Homo sapiens: one gene and its partners. The protein of the gene in region 1 purifies or fractionates together with the protein of each later gene. This does not show direct contact. Each region holds a gene or a part of one and is shown on either strand. Other genes may lie near its edges. The genes, in order: HR, THRA, CSTA and IQGAP3.

Region 1 (6,264 bases):
TCCGGCTGCATTCTCAGGAACAGTGCTGGAACAAATGAACATTGATTCACTTCTGTTTACAAAGAGACCAAATATGTCCTCAAGGGCATTGTGACCCACCTGGAAGGCCAGAGGCGGTTAAGAGGAGATAAGGTCTTGAGGGGAAGACAGAGGTTTAGTGGTGCACTGTTCCCACCCCAATGGGTAAAATTCAGAGAACCATCTTCCCACAGGAAATACTCCAGATTTGGGGTTCTGAGGTGACATCAGGACATGGCTACAGAAGATGAAGTGGGGCATGGTGGATCACGCTTGTAATCCCAGAACTTTGGAAGGCCAAGGTGGGCACATTGCTTGAGCCCAGGAGTTCGAGACCAGCCTGGGCAGTGTGGCAAGACCCTGTCTCTACAAAAACTACCAAAATTAGGCATGGTGGCATGCACCTGTAGTCCCAGCTACTCAGGAGGCTGAGGTGGGAGGATGGCGTGAGTCCGGGAGGCAGAGGTTGCAGTGAGCTGAGATTGCATCACTGCATTCCAGCCTGGGTGACAGAGTGAGACCCTGTCTCAAACAAAAGATGAAACGTAGGTAGGAATGGGTCATTCGGGGCCACTTGGAACATGATCAGCTATAAAGCACGTACATTGGAAGAAGAAGGACAGAGAGGAGGGCAAGCCTGTCTTTAAATTCCACTAAGAGTTAAGACTATAATGTACACAAGGTGTCTTGACTCAGAAAACTTGGTTCAAATCCCAGTTCTTCCACTAAAATTGCTATGCGACCTTGGGTAATTTACTTAATTGTAGCTTGCCTGTTTCTTCTTCTGTAAAATGGAAATAAATCCTATCTGTCTTAAAATCCTGATAACGGATTAACTGAGATCATTTTAATAAAAGGGATTAAATGAGATAAATTATTATTATTATTATTATTATTATTATTATTATTATTATTTTGGAGGCAGAGTTTTGCTCTGTCTCCCAGGCTGGAGTGCAGTGGCATGATTTCGGCTGACTGCAATCTCCACCTCCCAGGTTCAAGCGATTCTTCTGCCTCAGCCTCCCGTGTAGCTGGGATTACAGGCGCCTGCCACCATGCCCAGCTAATTTTTTTTTTTTTTTTTTTTTTTTTTTTTGGTATTTTAGTAGAGACAGGGTTTCACCATATTGGCCAGGCTGGTCTTGAACTCCTGACCTCAAGTGATCCACCCGCCTCTGCCTCCCCAAGTGCTAGGATTACAGGCGTGAACCACGTCGCCTGGCCAGATGAGATAAATTAAATGAAAACAAAAGCAAAGTAAACTGTAGAGTTCTCAGTTTTTTCTTTTCTTTTCTCCTCTTTATCCCATAAAAAAATGAAAATAACTGAGTTCTCCAAACAATGAAAGAAGCCCTACATTTTTTTTTTTAAATAAAGCATAGTTTTGTAAATCATGGCAAAGCCACTTAATGGAATATAAGCAGTCATTTAAAATGAAGATTAGGTAGCAACACAGAAAATGATTATGATATGGTGTCGAAAGAAAGAAACCAAGGACAAAACACAGCAATCCAGCTATGTGCACAGCAAATCCTTGGGGAAAGCACTGGGAGGGAATATGCCAAAATACTCATAGTAGTTGGAGGTGTGTAATGATGGGCTAGAAGGTGACTTTCTTATTTTCTGAATGTTCTGAAAGTATATTACCCTTATAATAAAAAACTTTATTTAATAAAAAAAATTCCCCAAACCACAGCAGGAACAATTAGGTATGACAAGAGTGGGAGTGTTTTTCTTTGTAGGGCTGAGATACACAAAGGAAGCGGGAGAGGGCGGAGCGCCACCAGGAGGCTGCGGGCGTGGAGCGGGGACAAGGAGGGGTCGGCTGTCTGAAGCAGTCAGGCTCAGTCCCAGGGTGGCTGGGCCTGGCGTCGGCCATGGCCACTGCCACCAAGGGCAGACAGGCGGGGCAAGGGCTCTTCTGGGCCATACTTCTGGATCTCCAGGTCAGGGTAGACGGGAGAGATGGGGCGGACTGGAGCTTGCTGGGTGGAGTAGGGCTCGGGAGTCTCTGCACAGGGAGGTCACCTCGTGGCTGTGCCCCAGGACTCTGCCTTGCCTGCTCTTGCACTCAGGAGCATCTTTGGGGGACAGCCCCCCACCCCACCCAAAGTCTCCTCAGTGGGAGGCAAGGCCCCAGGCCCCAGACGAAGAGCAGGCAGTGGTGTCCTGTCCCTTGGGCCCCAGCTCCGGGCTGCCCTACTCCATTTGTCTCTAAGGCAGATTTCCATGTCCCCCTCCCTCCCTGGACCATGTGGCCTGCAGGGGCAGGGCCAACCACACTGGCAGCAGTCACAAAACAACAGACTTTAATGGAAATCATGAAGGAGGGAAGCGGGCGGACCGGGAAGGGGCTGAGTGACATCGCCCATGCCGCTCCCTCCGCCAAGCCTGAGCAGCTCCTGATGCCACCCTCTCCTCACACTCCCCAGATCTTTTGGCAGGAGGGCAGAAGGTTGGAGGCCCCTTGTTCAGCATGCCTGCAGTGAGCCCAGTGAGGATGCGGTGGTAGAAACGGAGCTGGGGCAGTAGAGTGGGCTCAGCGGGAGTGAGCAGCAGGAGGAGGTGTTGTTTAAGCCAGAATGATTCCCAAGTTTCCCCAAGGAAGGGCTGTTTGTCTCCTGGGTCTCGGAGGAGTGGGGATTGGAGGAAGTCAATTGCCCCCAGTGCGGGCCTGGTACCATGAAAAGGGGCACAGGGTGGGGGAGATGCCAGCCTGAGAAGGACAGGTGTGAGCTTGGTGGCACTGTGGTTGTTGGCTTAAGGGGGAGGGGAACAGAGTGCCCTGCTTGTGCCCAGAGTGGTGCTTGTGGGGTTGACCAGAAATCCCCAAGTCCCCTAGCGCCATCCCCTGCTGAAGTTGTGCCTGGGCTGAGCACCTGGTCTACCTGTCCCCACCCCGATCCCAGACACCTAGCATCCCTCTATTTGGCCTCCTGTAATGTCCCCACGGCCACCTTCACTGCTTGGAACACAGCCCAGTCCATCTAGGAAAAAGAGAGAGGACAAAGCATTTTCAACTACATTCCTGGGCCCACCCGCTGTCCCCCACCCTACTTAAAAGGAATACTCTGGCCAGATGCGGTGGCTCACACCTGTAATCCCAGCACTTTGGGAGGCCAAGGTAGGTGGATCATTTGAGGTCAGGAGTTCAAGACCGGTCTGGCCAACATGGTGAAACCCCACGTCTACTAAAAATCCCAAAAAAATTTAACCAGGCATGGTGGTGGGCGCCTGTAGTCCCAGCTACTTGGGAGGCTGAGGCAGGAGAATCACTTGAACCCAGGAGGCGGAGGTTGCAGGGAGCTGAGATAGTGCCACTGCACTCCAGCCTAGGTGACAGAACAAGACTCCATCTCAAAAAACAAAATGAAACAAACTAAACAAAAGGAATACTCTGCCCCTGCACAGGGTGGCTGCCTGCTTGGCACAGGGTGGGATCTGCTATGTCCACTGCAGCTGTGGCACAGGGAGGTGGGAGGCTTGGGTAGCACACCCAGCCTGCTGGCCCACATCCCACTCACCTGGGCATAAAGCAGGTGGCAGTCAGGGGGAAGGCTGGGTCCCTGGTGGCAGAGCTGAGCAGAGAGGGCAGAGGTCTCAGGGGAGAGGAAGTGCTGAGTGACGCTGACTGTGCTCACCAGGCCCTGCACCTGTGTCGGGGGGACATGGACAGTGAGGCTCAAGATCACACATCCTCTCCCTGTCCCCCTGGTCCCTGAGGTTCGCTTCCTCTAATGACAACCACCCCCGACCCCTGGCTCTCAGAGAGCAGATTCCTGGATGCACCACTGGACACCTCAAAGCCTGTGGCCAAAACCGGGACTCAGAACTGCTGGAGAGACCCTAAAGTCTCCCTGCGAGCCCCCTGACATCAGCATGCCCAGGAGACCAGGAGTGGACTCTGGCGCCAGTCCCAGTTGGGCTCAGTGACTTCAAGGCCTCTTGGCTCCCCCGTTATCTCTTCCCCACAGCAGCGTGCGGCTCCCTGCCCTGCCCGGCTCTTGGGTATTGAGGGGATGTTGGATGCCTGCGGCCTTGATTGGGTCGCTTCTGCCATCCTGATCTCCCCGCAGAGCCCCTGCCCGCTGGGAAGCACCTGGTGGGGAGCCCCTGCAGGCACCAGCACGGCCTCTCCGGGGGCCTGGAGCAGGGTCCAGCAGCTCACGCCCCACTCCTCCCGCAGGCGCCGCCGCAGCCCTGCATCCAGGTAGCAGCTGCCTGGGGCGCCAGGCTCCAGGGCGCCTGCCCCGGCCGGGCACACCTCAAAGAAGAGAAGGGGGAATGAGCGAGATGGGGAGGGAAGGGCAGGGCTGCAGGAGGATGGGGCATGGACTTTCCAGAGGCCAGGGGTGGAGAAAAGAGCCGAAGGGTCAAGTCTTGAAGGGCAGGCAGGGAGGGCATGGCTGAGTTTGTTTGGGGCTGGGGCAGCTCAGGTTGGCAGAACACACATTTGGCTGGAAGGAGCTTAGAAGGAAGGGATTCAAGGCCCTACAGTTGGGCAGACTGAATCCCTGCTTTTCTGGGGCTGGAGGCCTTTAACAGCCTCTGTGACCTCGGCCCCTCTCCTCCCTCTCTCAATGGTACCCCTTTCTGCAAATCCGAGGGAGACGTCCTGCATAATCCCAGTTCATAAACTGTCTACCAGGACTTCTTCATCTGAAGTCTTTGGAATGGCCAGAATTGTGTGCTAAGTGGTGGATGAGGAGAGAGCTGTGTGTCCCTGGGGAGACAACTCAAAGTGTTCATCAGGGTCTCCCTAAGATTCCGGATGCAGAAAAGGGAAGGACCACTGCGAGGCTCTGAGTGCCAGCAGGTGAACAGGCTTTCCGGCCAGGCTGAGGCCTCTGCAGCAGCCACAGCTACGGGGACCTCACAAGCCTAACCAGAGCAGGGAGCTCTCTGGGCAGGCAGGGACTCGCAGAGGACAGAGGTGCCCAGGGAACATGTGCAAAGGGGACGCCAGCATCGTGCTCCAACCCACCACCAGCCCAATCCACCCCCTTTGGCAAGGACCTCAGCCATTGCCCCTGGGCTTAGGGCTGCAAGATGGGGCGTGGGGGAAGGGAAGGCTGGTGAAGCAAATTGGACCCTAGGGGAGTCCCAGCTGGGTGCCAAGATTCCTTTGCCCTTGGAGATTCAGCTCCATCCTGGAGCTGAGCAGTGTTTCCCAGGCCACCCAGGGAGACTGTGCCCCTCAGCCCTGCCCCGTGAGTCACTGGGTTGGGCCGTAGTGACTGCCCACGGCCAGCCACACCCAGCCCAGAAGAGGCCATCTGTGTGTGGAGGTGTGCTTGTCTGCTCCCCTCTGCGTGTCCCAGCATCTGTGTGTGTATCTACACATGTGTGTACCTGTGGGCAGGAGGGGTGCACACCATGCTGGCCTCTGCACGTCTCCGTGTGTGTGTGTGCCTTGGCGAGGGGTGACACTAGGTGGAAGTCTTTTCCCCAGGATAATGAGGGCTCAGCTGGACTTGGGAACCACGGGGCTGCCCTCGCCTTACCCCTGGACTCTCTCCTCCCCTGCGCCTCAAGCTTCTTGCCTCCAGCCCACCCCATCACCTTCCCCTTCCCTGGCTCCTCACCTGACCCATCTCTCCCTCCACTTCCCTCAGCCCCCTTCCTTGCTAGCCCCTCCGGGAGCATCTCCTCCAGGCAGTCTCCCCTAACAAGATGCAAATACCAAAAGGTGGGCAGCCGGACGGAGTCTCAGAAGGCAGAGGAGGCTGCCTGCCTCCAGGAAGAGCATAGAGTAGTGACCTGGGGCCATGACAGACAGAAGCTCAGATCCCAGCCCTGCCACTGAGCTTCGGTGTTCTCATCTGCCAATGGGAAAGGAGCAGTGCCTGCCTCATGGGGCGGGGGGCTGAGACGGGTAACAGATAATTGTGCCTAAGGCCCTAGCACCACGTCCAGCCTCGGGCAGCTGGTGCTCTCATTTCATCATCGGGTCCAGGCTCTCCTGCCGCAGCCCCTGCCCCTTCTCTGAGCCCCACGGCAGAACTCCGGGTCCCCTCTGCCTTCTCTGCACCTGTCTGTGCGAGTTGGGTCTGTGCAGCTCACCTGAGGGCGTGGGGCAGGGAGCGAGCACATGGGACCGCACACTGGGGTGGGACTGGACGAGCTTCTAGGGCTGGGCGGGGGGAAGGGGAGGGCTCCCGGCTGCCTCCTCACCATCTGGAGAAAGCGGCGGATGCGCTGGGCGTCCTGTGCCCGGAACACGTGCCACACAGTGCTGACCTGGCT
Region 2 (6,264 bases), on another chromosome or scaffold:
CGTACATGCGGGGCGGCTGAGAAAAGGGTGGAAAGATGGGAGGAGGGGTAAAAAGGCTGGTGGGGGAAAGAGGGAAGAAGGGAGGAGGGGGAAGAACAAAGAAATGGGACAGGGCTGGGGTAGAGCTAGGGGTGACAAGGCAGTAGAGGGAGAGGAAGAAAGGGGAGCCAGAGATGGGGGATGGGGAGAAGGGGTGAGGTAGAAAGGAGGACAGATAAAGGGAGGAGAGACACATGAAGGAGGGGAGACAAAGAGAGAAAGGTAACAAAGAAAGATGGGTGGGGGGCTTCGTACCCTGTCTAAGTCCCACCCCATGCAGGCTGGGGGGAGGGGGGCGTAGGAATGGTTTCCACGGTGACAGCTGGTTCTTGGTGGCCTGGCATGTGGGCTATTAATAGTTCTGTGGGTAGGTTCACACCTCCCTCTCCCCTTCCCCTCTGCCTGCTGCTAGGGTGGGGGGAGATCCCTCCCCCACCACCCACTCCTGATCACCCAGCCTCCCACCATGGGAGCCAGGAAGGGCGATGCTGAGGGGCCGGGGCGGCCACCGTGGCCCAGACACATAAATGGGCATGCATGGGCACAGGCGTCTATGGGCAGCACTGCCCCCCATGCCAACACGGGCACCACAGGCAGCCACCCACACCAAGGGCCCCTGGGAGTCTGTGGTGGTGGCAGTGCTGCAGCAGCGACATGTGCCCCCATGCTGAGGGGCAGAGGCCTCTCTAGGACCGGGACTCCCTGTCCTTTCCCATACCCCCTGTTCTATTCTCAGGTATGGATTGAGCAGGGCTGCCCCACCCAACTCTCTGTTATCCTAGTGCCAGGAAGGAGAGGAGGAGTGAAGGCGGGAAGGAAGGTACTATTTGGCAGGTGTGATGTGGCAGAGGAGTACACACAGACTCAGGGCCCCAGCCTGGCAGGCATGGGGGAGACGGGAGGAGGGGAGGCGGCACCCCTTGGTGAGCTCTCACTGGGCCCCCAGGAGACAGGTTCTGGAGCTGGGGGGCAGTGACTCATCACCTAGCCACTGTGGGACCTTAGAGGCTAGAGAATGGGAGATGGGGTGGGGATCCTCATAAGGGGGAGATTGGTTACTTAAACAAAGGATCCTCCCCACCCCGCCCCAAAAGAATATAACAGGAAACCCCCCCTGCAGGTCAGAGACAGAAAGACATAAACAGCAGCCTTGACTTGGGCCAGATGCCCAGTATTAACATCAAAGACTGCTTCCCACTCGGCTCCCCCATAGCCTCACCCACCTGCTGCTCTCCTCTCCCTCCTCCTGCCCGGGCCAGCTCCAGCCAGGCATCAAGGTGGGTGCCCAGGTCTGGAGGTCTCCTCCCAGGTCACATCCATCCCCCATGACCACTGGTGGGTGGTCATGCCCACACCCATGCTGGAGAACTCAGCCCCTCCTTATCAGCCCACAGAACTTCACGCCCCCCCTGCCCAATTCCCCTCAGGAATGGAGGCAGGAGATCCAAGTAGCCAAGAAAGCAGAAGCAGGAGCACCCCCAAGCTGGGCACGGCACATTCTCCCCACCCTCCCCCAGCAGCCAGCGGGTAATTGGAGCTGGGAGCTGGGGCAGCTGAATGCTGGAGGCATGAATGTCACGGGGCCAAGGCACTTGCTGCAGATGGCACCATGGGCACAAGGCTTGGGGTCCTCCCTCCTCACTCCCTCATCTAAGGCAGTAGAAGAAGTTGCCTGCAAGCCCTGAAGAGCATGGCCTAGGAGGGGAGGGAATGGTGGAGGGGGAAAGAAAGGGAGGGATGTTCTCCCAGGCACCCCAGAGGCTGGAGCTAGCCCCTAACCAAGCAGAACTGGCAGAGGCAGAGAGAGAGAGACAGAGACAGAGACAGAGAGACAGGGACAGAAAGGGAGGAGGGAGGGAATAGGAAGGAGGGAGGAAGGGGGAGGGAAGAGAGAAAGATTGAGAGTGTGTGTGTGAGAGAGAGAGAGGGAGGGAGAGAAGGAGGGAGAGACAGAGAGGGGGAGGGGGAGAGAGAGAGGGAGAGGGAAGAGGAAGGGAGGGAGGGAGAGAGAGAGGGAGGGAGAGAGGGAGGGAGAGAGCGCGCGCGTGAATGCAGCTGAGTCTCCGGCACACACACGGACACGTGCAGACACACACACTCACCCCGCATGCGCAGAGCCACAGGGCTCTGGGTACCGTTCCAGGAGATATTCAGAGCCCTCCCCAGCCCACACATGCACAAAAACACTCTCACATGGATGCGTGCACAACACACCCACTCACTGATGTGTACAAAAATGCCGAAAGACACCAAAGCCTCGGTTCCCCTGTTTCCCCACCCCCATGCCTGGTAAAAGAGAAAAAGAAACAGGCAGCTGGGGCTCTGGGAGCCAAGAGCCGATCTCTTCTTTAGAAGAGGAAAAGAGGAGGAGGAGGAGGTGGGCCAGGGGCTTGGTCCAATCATTCTGCTCTTGGCCACTGCTGAGGGGCATGGCTGAGGCTTTGGTATCAACCTTTAATGCCCACCCCCAAAACAGCGAAGCAAGGATAGTATTTCCTGGGCACCAGTAACACCCATCTTGCTTCCCTTGTCTACCCAGCAAACTTCTGACCCTCCCTCTGGACCACCTCACGCAATGGCATACCGGAGGGAGGTCCCTATGACCCCAGCTTTGGCCTGCCAAGTGACACCAAGGTGGAACCACATGTGCCCCCACCACACACCAGCCCCAGATACTTCAGTGAGAGACTGAGAACTGTCTCTGGTTCCAGGCAGCATGTGTATGCCCCACCCTGGCATGTGCCAGGCCCTGGGAAAAAAGGAGAATCCACAGGCATTGCTCACCATGCCAGGATGCAACATGGATTGAACACAGGGGTCATCCCACCTTGTGTTATTTGCCCTCAACCTGAGTGAGACAGGAACCATTGTCTCTAGATAATGAAAACCCAGGCCCAAAGTCATACGACTAGTGAATGTCAACAGCCAGGCCTCCCAACTCCCAGCCAGTGATCTTCCCACCACGGTCATGCTTGCCTCCCTCCCCAAGAGACACAACAGTTCTCCAAAGTCCCCTAGACACCTTTGCAGCCATGAGAACTAGAGTTGGGTTTTTTGTTTTGTTTTCTGTCTGTTTTGAGAGGATGTGTGTGTGGGGGGTCTCACTCTGTTGTTCAGGCTAGAGTGCAGTGGCACAATCACAGCTCACCGCAGCCTCGACCTTCCAGGCTTAAGCGATCCTCCGGCCTCAGCCTCCCAAGTAGCTGGTAACACAGGCATGCGCCACCACACCTGGCTAACTTTTTAAAGTTGTTTTTAGAGATGGGGTCTCACTATGTTGACCAGGCTGATCATGAACTACTGGCCTCAAGTGATCCTCCCGCCTTGGCCTCCCAAAATATTGAGATTACAGGCATGAGCCACTGTGCCCAGCCGAGAACTAGAGTTGAGATTGGTTCCCACTCCAAAGGCTTCCCGTCACCCCTACAGGGTATCCTCCCATTGTCCTTCCTTCACCTTGAGGGGCAGGGCTAAATAAAAGGGGTTTGGAGAGGGGATCCTGATCACCAGACTCACAAAGGCAAAGAGGCAACCCAGGACAGATGCTGGATCTCAAAGTGCTGTGCCCACCACACTGGTCATTACTCAGTGCTTCAGTTTCTCTCTGCCACCACCTTTCACACTAAGTACCACTCCATGGAGGGCAGGGGAATCTGGTGCCTATCAGCCAGAGCTGGGTCCTGGTTGACCAATGCTGGGCTCCCAGGAGGGAGGAAGGGCACTGCCTCCTCTTTGAGCCCACACATAAGAGAGGGGACGGCTTTCCTTGTTCTCTCTCTCCCACCCCCAGAGCTCAGACCCTGAACAGAGATGCAGTGATGCCCAAAGATTTATGCAGGTGCCCCTAGCTGGTGGGGTGTGTCCCAGGCTGAGGGGCCAAGGGCTCCTTGTAAGCTGAAGGGCGAGGGTCAAAGGAGGGTGGGGCAGAGGGGCCTGCCTTGGGCTCTTTCCCATACACTCATTCCAGGCTGCAAAAATTTGTCTGGGAGGAAAAGATTACATGACGGTGAGAAGGCTGGAAATTGGAGACCCACTGCCCCAGGCCCCAGTCTCACTGATGTCTAGGAGACCCAATTCTCCACGAAGCTTCTCTAAGAAATCTGGGAGACCCCAGGCCCACAGCTTCCTTCACCCATCACAACCGCTCACATATACAGTTTGTTATGAACTAGGCACTTTTAAAAACATTTTTCCTCAAAAAAGCTAAATGAGGTAGATATGATCATCCCCAATTTACAGATGAGGCAACGGGGAAGTTAAATCGCTTGCTCAAAGTCACACATCCAGCAAGTGACAGAGCTGGGATTCAGACCTAGGCAGTCCAGGTCAATCATGGCCGTCATGATCATCACCATCATCTCTGTTCTTAGCTGTGATGGTATATCACCTGCTTGATAGATAATGCCTTGTTCTTTTTTGTTTTTCTTTTTTTTTTTTTTTTTTTTTGAGACGGAGTCTCGCTCTGTCACCCAGTCTGTAGTGCAGTGGTACAATCTCAGCTCACTGCAACCTCCACCTCCTGGGTTCAAGCGATTCTCCTGCCTCAGCCTCCTGAGTAGCTGGGATTACAGGACCCCGCCACCACACCCAGCTAAGTTTTGTATTTTTAGTAGAGATGGGGTTTCACCATCTTGGTCAGACTGGTCTTGAACTCCTGACCTCAGGTGATCTGCCTGCCTCCGCCTCCCAGTGTGCTAGGATTACGGGTGTGAGCCACTGTGCCCGGCCCAATGCCTTGTTCTTTCATCCAGCTATGTGTTCCCTGAGACCAAGCCTCAGTCTTTCCCCTCTGTAGCTGCCCTGTGGGTTCTCTGCCAAGTGCCTCCACCTCCAAATAGTCCAAGGCTAGAGGGGAGCATAGCGAGAAGTGCTTGGTGCCCCCGGGCTCGATGTCTCCTGCCTGAGTTCCCCCTCCTCAAATTCCCTCTCCAGAAGAGGTACCCCTTCTAGGCTGGAACCTGCACTCACGGGTGGGAGGGCCTCGCTTAGTACATACTTAGTCTAGGCAGCTGTGCCCTCAGAACCAGGCCCTGAGGCTGGGCAAAAAGGACACAGCTGTTGGGCATCTCTGAGGTGGGCCTCAGCTGCCAGGGGTGTGGAGAAAGGCCATTGTGAGCCCTGCAGTGGACCCAACTCAGCAGGGTCCTGCCAGCTCCCGCCACTGCCCATGGGGGCGGTTCTTTTCCAGCTTGGGCCAGTGTGGGGGGAGCCTCTTCATGGCTTGTTTAAGAGCTGCTAGCTGGCTGCAGCCTGCACCCTGAGGGTGCCCACAGAACTGGTGTCTCCAGACATGCAGGCCCGAGGGGTCAGCATGGGCAGTGGCTGACCCCCCCCCCCTTCCCCCATTCCCAGCCCCTAAAACTTGCTGGCCACAGCTGCGGCACTAAGGAAGTGCAGGAAGTCCTGAGCAGCCAGCTGAGCCCCCCGCCCCCCACCCCAACCTCAAGCTGACCCCAGAGGCTGCGCAGGGGGGGCAGAGGGGCGGAGCTTGGGTATTAACAACTGGAAAAGTATGAAGAACATTGCTGCCAGTCCCCAGCTCTGAGACAAGGACAGGGGTAGATCGGGGGTAGCAACAGGGTGAGAGAGAGTTACAGACTGGCAGAGAAACAAGGAGAGAGAGAGGGAGAATCAGACACTGCAAGACAGAGCAACAGAGAGACAGAGTTAGAGAGAAATTCCAAGTCAAAAGTACATATCACTCACACAGACACTCGCCAGCCGATGGCCTCTTAAGGAAAGCTTCCAAGTTTGGACAGGAGGGTACAGGTGGGAAAAAGGGCCAGACTCAAGGTGGGGCGCAGGAACTCAGCTGGAAGTGACTGACTGTTCCCAGGAAAGACCCAGGCAAATGACTCAGAGCAGGGGCAGTTAGACACCCCTGAGCTTTTAGGGTAGGGAGGAGAGCAGCTCTCCCCTTCCCCAACAGTCAAGAGAATCCTAGCTTCTAGAAGTCACTGGACACTGCTTTGAGCCCATGACTCGGCCCTCTGGAACCCCCCTGAACCCACTGTCTTTGCTCTTGTTTCTCTGTCCCTCTAAAAGAAAGAAAGAAAAAAAAAACAGCCCATTCCCGCACAGTGGCTGAGCCTAGAGGAAAAAGGGGAGGAGGAAGCTGAAGGGGAAAAATTTGTGATTGTGTGCATCTAAGTGTGTGCTCGGCTGCACAGGCTGCAGTTGTGTGTATCTGGGGTTGTGTGGACACGACTGTTGGTGTGGACCTGC
Region 3 (6,264 bases), on another chromosome or scaffold:
GTAAGAATTTTTACTTTGGTTCTTGCTGGAGACAATAAATGCTTTGTCTTATACAAATATTTATTGTGCTTCTGATGTCACTTCCTATCCTAATTTTAACAAATGCCATATATCAAATGTTTACTGTGAGCCAGACACTATGATGAACATTTTATATAAATGATTATATTAACCTATATTATAGGCCTGAAGAAAAGTGGAGCAATGAAATTTTTACAGACGTGGAAGCAGAGTAGGAGAGATTAAGTGATTTTCCATAAATCTCTCAGCTAGTCAGTGGCACAGCCAATATTCAAACCCAGATCTGTTAGCCTCTAGCATCTACATTCTTTTCACTCTACAATGTAACATTTTTGGGGGGTACTGATCGGGGAATGAGGCCTGGCTCACAGTGCAGTGGTGCGATCGCAGCTCACTGCAACCTCAAACTCCTCGGCTCAAGTGATCCTCCTACCTCAGCTTCCCAAGTAGCTAGGACTACTGGTGTGCATCACCATGCCTAGGTAATTAAAACATTTTCTTTGTAGAGGCAGGGTCTTGCTATGTTGCCCAGAATGATCTCAAACTCCTGGCTTCAAGCTATCCTCCCACCTTGGCCTCCCAAAGTGTTCGGATTACAGGTATAAGCCACCACACCAGGCCAGTGTAACCTTGTAAAAGCTCTTATTTTGTGCTTTATATTAGAGGCAGCACAGCCAGTAGTTAAGCTCAGTCTATCTGGGTTCAAATCCTGACTCTGCTCTTGTAGTTGTGTGATCTTTTTAGTTTCTTCACCACCCTGGAACTCAGTTTTTTCGTTGGTAACCCAAGAGAAGTGATTGTACTTATCTCATAGATTTGTTGTGAGGATTAAATGAGATAAGCCCTGTTCTTAGAATAGTGCATAGTGAATTATAAGTGCTCAATAAATTTCCAGCTTATTTATTCCTCACAACACGCTGCGAAGTAGATTATTACCCTCATTGTGCAGATAAGGGAATGAAGGCTCAGAGAGGAGGAGGAGCTTCCCATAGAACAAATTGAACAAGGGTTCAAACCCAGGACACTCTGACACCTAAGCTTGTGGTCCTTCCATTCTACCACCTACCTCTTGATAGGTACTTGAAATACATAGAGAAGGTCACATCACTGGCAAGACCTTAAATCTAGAGTGCCTCAGAGCAAAGGGATCAACAGCCAGACTACCAGGAAGTAAAAGGGAACTGGGATCGGTGGCTGAGATCCAGTAGGAAAAGTTTGATAGCAGAAGGAAGAAAAGATGAGAGAGAGAGAGGAGACTGATTAAGAGAGGGCAAAAGGGTGGTCAAGGGAACAAATTTTCAAGCAGAAATTTTCAAGATAGTTATCTGATGAACTGTTGAAGAAACATGTGAGCTGGTAATATGTGAAATTTATGCATTTGAATTAATCATAAATTATTAAATATGTTAATGTTGATGGAATGTTTCCTATCTTTGCACATAATCATTTTTAACTGGAAAACTTTCTTTTCCAGCCATGAAGAAAGCAGATTGAGAATGGAGGAAATGGTGCCATTGTTTTCTGAGGATACAGCAGGGTCCTCTTTCACATGTGTCTCCCCGGGACCTGGTCGTTACTAGGAGCTCACATTTGGCAGAACAGGGCTGATCTGTGTACATAGCTCTGTACTGAAACTTTCTTATGCTGAGCTGACTAGCTCCACTTACTTCACTTACTTTTTTTTTTTTTTTTGCTGAAAAAATCTTTTAAAATGTTTATATTTTAATAGAAATATTTGTTAAAGAGAAATAAGCCACACTGTGCCCTGGTCAAATAGTGAAGTAAAGATTAAGTAAATATACTTGAATATTTGTTTTTATTTTTAAAATCAGCATTATCATCTTCTTAATATATAAGGACAAACATGGCTCTCAAATATTCATGGTTGACTTGTTCAACTGGTTTCCTCTTGATAACTTCAATTAGAACTCGATCAATGCATTGTGTAATTTTTTGACAGAGCTATAAAATTAACTTTTAAACTATTTTAAATACTCCACTCTTTTAAACTATGCCTAGAGTGCCACAAGTTAAATCTAATTTGAGTTACAAAATAGTATTTACATTATATTAATTGAAGGGCAAAAAAGGTTTAAATTATTTTCCCAGCTAATGATTTGAGTCGTTACTTTAATTTATTTAATTTAGACATAGAGAATCATACAGCTTTGAGGTAGAATCAGCTTCAAGATACCATGTGGTCCAGCCCCACACCTTCAGGCAGATGAGACGTGATCCTCCCTCCTTACCTAAGCAGCAGCACAGCCACAAATCCAGCATGCCCTGAACTGTTATGAAATCTTTTTCTATACAATTTCCAGAAATCAAGAATCAATGTAATAAAACTTTCTGAATTCACAAGAAAAAAAATGGTGTCACATCATCTACCAAATTTGAGAGTCCACCACTTGGAAGGAATCATGCTGGGCATCTTAATTTAGGACAACCGTAAGGAAGGAATTATGTGGTAGGGAAATCAGGGAATATTTTACATAAAATGAGAAATACATCTTTTGGCGCTAAAGTAGGTGCTGAACTCTAACCTTAATGTAGTAATTTGTTCCAGCAACAACTTGAGTTTTATACTGCACAGCTTCCAATTTTCCGTAAGTCTCATTTGTTTTTTCTTCAAGCTGTGGTTTAACCTAAAGAAAAGAAAAGAGGAAACAAATAATCAAAGCTATATTAGACTCCATGTATGCAATGTACCCATCTGGGAACCTCATCCTCCTAAAAGTCTTCAAAGATGGTAATGAAATCTATGAACTATTTTTATTATTTCAATAGAAAACACCTGTTTTAATACAATTACATAGGTTAAAAAGTCAAATTTTGTTGCTTTAGGCTGAATTCACATCAACTCAGTGTGGTAATGCAATATAGGAGCGTTTTGACTGCTAAAACTCTAAGAGTTATATGTATCTTTGATTAATAAAAATCAGTGGAGCAATAATTACTACTTGATTAAAACATTATTTTAAAATGATTTCAGACTTAAAAGTTGTAAAATTAGTATAATGAATTCTCTTATATCATTTACAGTTCCCTTAATTTTGCCGTTTTACATAACATAGTATAATCACCAAAATGAGGAAATTAACATGGTATAATACTATTAAGTAGTCTCTAAACCTTATCAGAATTTTGCCAGTTTTCCTGAAAATGTCTCTTTTCTGCTCCAGGATCTCATGCAGGATCCTACATTGCATTTAGTTGTCATTTCTCCTCAGTCTCCTACAATCTGGGTTCATTCCTTTTTGTTCATGGCCTTGATGTTTTTGAAGAATACTGGCCTGTTAAATGGTAGAATGTCTCTCAATTTAGGTTTGTGTGATCTCCTCTTATGTTAGTATTATACATGTTTGTAAGGATAGCACAAACGTGATGTTGTGCTTAAGTGCATCCTATCAGGAGCTACGTTTCATTACTGGTGATGTTAATTTTGATCACTTAGGATGTCTGCCAGGTTTCTCCACGGTAAAGTTACCATTTTTTTCCCCTTTGTAATTAGTAAGTGTCTTGTGAGGAGTCTTGTTTCTCGCCATACTTTCATACATGAATTTTAGCATCCATTGATGGTTCTTGCCTACAACAATGATTAATTGTGGTGTTGGCCAAATGGTAATTAAAAAATCATTTCTTGTGCATTTATTATCTGGAATTCTGCCATAAGGAAGAGCTGTTCCCTCTCTCCTCTTTATGTAGTCAATTACTTATTTTATATTAATATGACTCATGGATATTTCTTTTACTCTGTGGATTACAATTCATTACTCTATTTTGTTACTCAAATGCCCTAGATTTGGCCGTTGGGAGCTCCTTCACCTGATGCCTGTGTTCTTTCAACATGCCTCCATCATTTTATAAGCACTTCCTTACTTTCTGACTCTACAAAAGTAGAGTCAGATGTTCCAGGTTTATCTTGAAGTTTCCTTGCCTCCTCACTGGAATCAACTATTTCTCCAAGGAGTCCCTGCTCCTTTTATTGGAGAACGGTATTTAAGACCCAAGATTTGGGTGCTGTGTCTCTTGTTACTAAATGTCATTGCTTCTAGGCCCACTCAGTGGAAAGGGCTACAAAATAATATGTGTACTCACACATGCACACATCTTTACGCATTTGTGTATGTGTGTGCATATATACACACATTTATCTGTGTGTCATTATATATATACATTATATATGTGTGTGTACGTGTGTGTGTGTGTGTGTGTGTGTGTGTGTGTGTGTGTATTCCTCTGATTAAAATCAAATACCACGGCCGGGTGTGGTGGCTCATGCCTGTAATCCCAGCACTTTGGGAGGCAGAGGCGGGTGGATCACTTGAGGTCAGGAGTTTGAGACCAGTGTGACCAACATGATGAAACCCCGTCTCTACTAAAAATACAAAAATTAGCTGGGCGCAATGGTGGGTGTCTGTAATTCCAGCTACTCAGGAGGCTGAGGCAGGAGAATTGCTTGAACCTGGGAGGCGGAGGTTGCAGTGAGCCGAGATCACACCATTGCACTCCAGCCTGGGCAACAAGAGTGAAACTCTGCCTCAAAATACATAAATAAATAAATAAATAAATAAATAATAAAATAAATCAAATACCACAGGACTCATTTAGCTTTTCCCTTTTCCTTATTATAACTCCTTTCTCAAACACTGAGGAAGAATCCTGGTTCTTATTATTTGCAATGTATTCGCCTATTTTCTCAGTTCTAGCATATACATAAAATAATTTCAGAATTGTTGACCTATACCCCTGTGGAAAACAATATACTAACTAGAGTGCAGTATTTGGGTATAATTCTTATAAAGACCCTGTGATTGCATGGGCTTACCTGGATAATCCAGGATAACCTCTCCATCTCCAGAGCCTTAACTTAATCACACCTGCAAAGTCTCTTTTGCTGTGTAAAGGAACCTAGTCACAGGTTCCAGGGATTAGGACATGGACATCTTTGGAGGGCCATCATTCTGTCTACCATGGAGGGATATGGGTTGGGTTTAAATGTCAGCATTCCCGAACCCAGCATGAGAAGGGAGACAGTCCCAAATTCAATATGTAAACTTTTACTGAGCCCATCAACTTTCTGTACAGTGCTTCATTCCCACTCTCAGCTGGGCCTGATATGCAAGAGTCTACTATGAGCTCTTGACTCAGTTCCTGCTAAGTGTAAAGCTCGTCTTCTGCCGGGGTGGAGGACAGTGAGGGAGAAGGAACTATGGGAGGTCTCACTGTCCTTCATACAGATCAGTCCTCTTGCTTTTGGTCTGAGACCTTACTCCTGGCTACGACTTTTTGGTGTTGCTCATGCCTGCGCCATTGTGACGTTCTGCAGTGTGAATCTGCTTGCTTCTGGCTTAGACTTTCCCCTCTATGGGCTTAGCTTCTGTTTAGACTGCTCAGCATTTTCCATTGTTCATCTGTTTTCCAACTTCCAAAATTTTATTGGTATTTCTGAGGTGGTACTTGCCTATCTCCTGTTGTCTTTATGTCTGTGGATTTGTCCTTCAACCCCAATTCTTTTCTGTCTTTTGGAGGAAAAAGGATATAACTCTCTGTGTTGAATGTACCTTGTTTATTGAGAACTTGCTTTTATGCCCTTCATGAAAGCATTGCATGTCCATACAACTTCAATCAGGCCTCCAGTCCATCTAGGATTCTCCCAAGGCAGTCCTTCCTATCAGTGGGCAGGTTTTTTTTGTTTTTTGTTTTTTTAAATTTAAGAGACAGAATCTCCCCCTCACCCAGGCTGGAGTGCAGTGGCGTGATCATAGTTCACTGCAGCCTCGAATTCCCGGACTCAAACAATCCTCCCTGGGCAGATGTTTTGAACCTTTACTACTGATGCCTCAGTTTGAGTACCAGAACTGTTTTCAAAGATGTAGACATATGCAAACTGTGAGTTCTCAGACCATTTCTGAAAGGCCAAACACTCCACGGACCACCACTCAGTTCTCCTGTAACCTTGAGAATAGACGGGAAAAGTGTGATTGTTCTGTTGAGATGGAAATGAAATTTCAAAGTGGAGAAAGGGAGAAGACAAATAGTGAGGACAAACCAGAAGTGGGAAGAGCTAGGGGCAGGAGAGCGGAGAAAGGATGCACAGAGAAGTAGAGTAAGGAAACAGGTTATTGTCTTAGGGTCCCTTTCCAAAGCCTTTCAAAATTCCAAAGGAGGGATGGCCAGTACTTGGCACCAGTCAAGTTAGGAGCTGAGTTTGAAAGAGTTAATCTCTACACTAACCCCCAA
Region 4 (3,500 bases), on another chromosome or scaffold:
CTCCTGCTCGAGGTCTCTTACCGTTGACATGGTTGATATTGCCCTGGATTTCAGCCTGAGTTAGGTAGTGGTCATAGATGTCCTGGCTTTCTCTGTCATCCTGCAAAAACTCCATTGAAAGGGAACCTGGGAAACCCAATTTAATCTCCTTGTCCTGCTCTTCCCTGCCTGGCTACACTTATTTCTTCTTCTGGGGACCTTCCCAAGGCCAAAGTTCAGTCTGCTCAGAATTCAGGAATTGTGGGGTCTAAAACACTTGGCACTGACATAATTAAGCCAAACCAACCTTTGGAACCTCCAGTCCAATCTCATTCTGTTCTACATTCCAGCACCCCTCTCAGGCTTCCCTGAAGATCATCCCCCAAGAACCTCTTCTCCAGTCTTCTCTTCGGAATTCTCATCATTCTTCCAAGTTCCTTTCCTATTTCTCTAAAATCACTGATAAATTATGGTTTCTCTAAGAAGCAATTTTGGATACTAGAGACATGACAGATAGGAGTCCCGGTTTCACTTGAGACTTTCCAGCCACTCAACTTTTCGGTCCCTGCAACCCAAGACTACTCCTTACATGGTTCCTGGCATTGGCTGCCTTCTCCATCTTGGCCTGGGCCAGCATCTCTTGGTAGACGGCTGCCAGAGGCTCTCGGAGATTCTCCAGAAGAGCACTGGGATTCTGCAAGGCAGCCAGGGTGTCCTCCACCACCCCTCGCTCCACTGCTTCATTGATGGCAAGAACAGCTGCATGGACTGGGAGAGGGCATGGAAACAAGGTCAGGAGGCCAGAGTGAATCCCAGATTGGAGCGCAACCAGTAGCAGCCCACTCTAATGTCATCCTTTTTCCCACCCTCAAGGGCCAGACAAACCAGGTAGCCTGATGGCCCTATCTGTGGATGAGAGCTGGCCAGAACCCATCCAATGGCTGTGAGGCTTGGAGCCCTCCCATACGCATTGAGCCTACTCCTGGCAGGGCAGAGCCTAGTCCTTACCTGCAGCCTCATCCACCGAGAGCTCATTGGCCAAGATGCCCCCGATCTTGCTGAAGGCAGGCAGCTGGAGGCCATATTTGGCCAGTTCGGACGCCATGTTGCTGAGTTCCTCAGCTGCAATGATGCCACAGGTGCCCTTCATCAGGCCCAGAACCCCCAAGACCCTGCCCAGGCTGTGGTGGTCAGGGAAGGAGCTGGGCTTACCTGTGAATTTCACTTTCCCGTATAGATCATGTATCTGAGGGGCCAATCCCAGCCGGAAGAGGAAGAGACTAGGAAAAAACGGAAGGCATTGGAAGGCACTGGGGCCTATTCATTTTGACACTCTGCCCACGATGGGTTTGAAGGGGATACTATGGGGACCTAGAGATGAAGACCACTCAGCACCTGCCCTCAAGTCATCCCCAACCCACATAAAGAAATATGACCATAAATCAGCCCAAGGAAAGTGCTGCAGAAGGTAAATAAGATGGTGTTGGGGGTCTGAGGGGATTAGGAAGGCTTCACAGAGAAGGCCACATTGCAGTAGCAGGTCACTCAATGGAGAGAGAGGACAGGAAGGGCGCAGCAAGCAGATACCTGCTGAGCTAAGGCACAGGGGCACAAAGGGACATGGGAAGTGGTCAGAAAGAGATGGCATGGTAAACACAAGGAACCGGTCGGTCACTTGCTGTGATTTAGCCAACTGGTTGCTGATGGCTGGCTGTAAGTAGGACCAAAGAGCCTACACCATCCATACTAAGTGTCTTGCCTGTGTTGCTCTCAATAGGTCCTGTTCTGATTCCTTTATACCCAGTTACAAACTGAAGGCCCTACCCTGCTACTTTCCTATCTCTGGTACCCTGCCTGCCCTTCCCCTTCACCCACACAGGCCATACATAAATGTGCCCACAGACATGCACAAAAATCTAAACACAACTCTGTAAATCTGAAACCTCACTCTCCTGAGCAGTGCTCCCTGTGGTCTACCCTTCATCCTTCTTTCTTGCTGAGTTTGTTGTTGTTGATTGTTGGTCGCATCCACCTAGAGGAACCTGGATGATAAAATTTGAGGTCTCTCACCTGAGAGCATGGATGCAGTAGACTACCCGGGGCATGTTCTTTTTGTCATAGATGTCCGTGGTCTCTGGGAAGAAGGTCTAGAGGAGAAACCAGCCAGTTACTGCCATTGGGAACCTTTAAGCACCACCAAATGCGGAGAGGGGGTGCCGAGGAATGGGTCTTCCTCTCCAACCTGAGGTGTGTGTTCCCTTGTTACCTGGGGTGTCTAGGTCAGTCTCCCCCAACCATTTCTAGTCAGCCTAGTATAAAAGAAATTCACTGAGGATGCATACTAAGCCAAGGCTCAGCCACAGACACATAGTCCTAGGGTGCCCTGGATTAACCAAACACCAGATAAGGCCATCAAGGCTACAGGATATAAGCCATATCCTCCAAAAACAATAACAGCAACAACAACAAAAAACCAGGCCCCCAGTTGTCTTCCAGATGTCTATAGTGAGCCTGCATGCCTCACCTTAGACCCTTGCCAGAGATGTGGTATGCTGGAGAGCTGGCCTACTCCCATGCAGGGCCCAATGAAGCATATATTGCCAAGGACCACAAAAGTGTCAGGCTGTTATCCCTGTCTCCAAGCCAGCGGCTTCTGATCAATGAGAGCCCTTCTAAGAACCGAGTGGCACCAGGTATGGCTTCTCAATGCCACCTGACAACTGTAATGAGGCCTAACCTCAATATATCTTGGTTATATTTAGATTCACAATAAAAGACCAAATTTAGAGACCTAGAGTGTTCCAGTCCCACTGAAGACACATGACCTCTATTGCTTCTGCCTCCCATCGAAGTGTCTTTACTGCTGTTTCCTGTCTTATAGTGCCTTTCTACAGGGAAGAAAAACAAAGCAGAAAGAAACCATACATTGTAGAATCCTATCATGCCTTCATTTGTATAGCTCTTCACAGTTCACAAAGGGAGTTCACACAGACCATGTGATCTTCCTGACAACACTGTAAGGTAGACAGGGCAGGGCTCACTATCCCCATTTTACAGATGAGTAACAAATTGAGGTTCAAAGAGTGAAATCATGTGTCCAGTTGGGGTTTTGGACCTAGGCTTCTAACTCAAAGTCTGCCACCTAGGGATGTGTATACCCTTGCTTCACACTGTGAAATTTGGTGGAGACAAGGCTGGCCAATACGAGCATGACATAGCAGCCTCCCACCCCCTGCATAATGGGAACCGTGCCACTCAGGCCAGGGAAACTTCACCTCCTTTCATCCACAGGGAAGAGGAGGCAGAGAAAAAAATAACCTGGTTCAAAGACACACAGCTGCAAGGAACTGTTCTCTTAGATTAAGTTAGTTTAGAAGACACATGGAAATAGGGCTAAAGGGTCCAGGGAGATAAAGCATGGGATTGTGGGAGGTGGCTGGTAAGGAGTAAAGATGAATACCAATCTTCAGGCCCAGTATTACCGAAGGCAGACCGATGTGGGCTATTGCAGATAGCCAAAA

What was found.
Region 2: the proteins of HR (region 1) and THRA purify together in Homo sapiens (affinity purification with western blotting, with the first as the bait; one study listed by BioGRID). This does not show direct contact.
Region 3: the proteins of HR (region 1) and CSTA purify together in Homo sapiens (affinity purification with mass spectrometry; one large-scale study listed by BioGRID and IntAct). This does not show direct contact.
Region 4: the proteins of HR (region 1) and IQGAP3 purify together in Homo sapiens (affinity purification with mass spectrometry; one large-scale study listed by BioGRID and IntAct). This does not show direct contact.

Annotation. Positions count from the first base shown.
Region 1 is NC_000008.11:22,112,758-22,119,021, forward strand, and holds the end of HR (lysine-specific demethylase hairless), read right to left. Parts: coding exon 6,193-6,264; intron 4,283-6,192; coding exon 4,118-4,282; intron 3,672-4,117; coding exon 3,543-3,671; intron 3,006-3,542; coding exon 2,943-3,005; 3' UTR 1,662-2,942; downstream 1-1,661. UniProt on the Homo sapiens protein: Histone demethylase that specifically demethylates both mono- and dimethylated 'Lys-9' of histone H3. May act as a transcription regulator controlling hair biology (via targeting of collagens), neural activity, and cell cycle.
Region 2 is NC_000017.11:40,064,885-40,071,148, reverse strand, and holds part of THRA (thyroid hormone receptor alpha), read right to left. Parts: intron 1-6,264.
Region 3 is NC_000003.12:122,333,949-122,340,212, reverse strand, and holds part of CSTA (cystatin-A), read right to left. Parts: intron 2,667-6,264; coding exon 2,565-2,666; intron 1-2,564. UniProt on the Homo sapiens protein: This is an intracellular thiol proteinase inhibitor. Has an important role in desmosome-mediated cell-cell adhesion in the lower levels of the epidermis.
Region 4 is NC_000001.11:156,562,566-156,566,065, forward strand, and holds part of IQGAP3 (ras GTPase-activating-like protein IQGAP3), read right to left. Parts: coding exon 3,462-3,500; intron 2,868-3,461; exon of another isoform or gene 2,771-2,867; intron 2,127-2,770; coding exon 2,050-2,126; intron 1,260-2,049; coding exon 1,192-1,259; intron 1,102-1,191; coding exon 988-1,101; intron 748-987; coding exon 569-747; intron 101-568; coding exon 22-100; intron 1-21.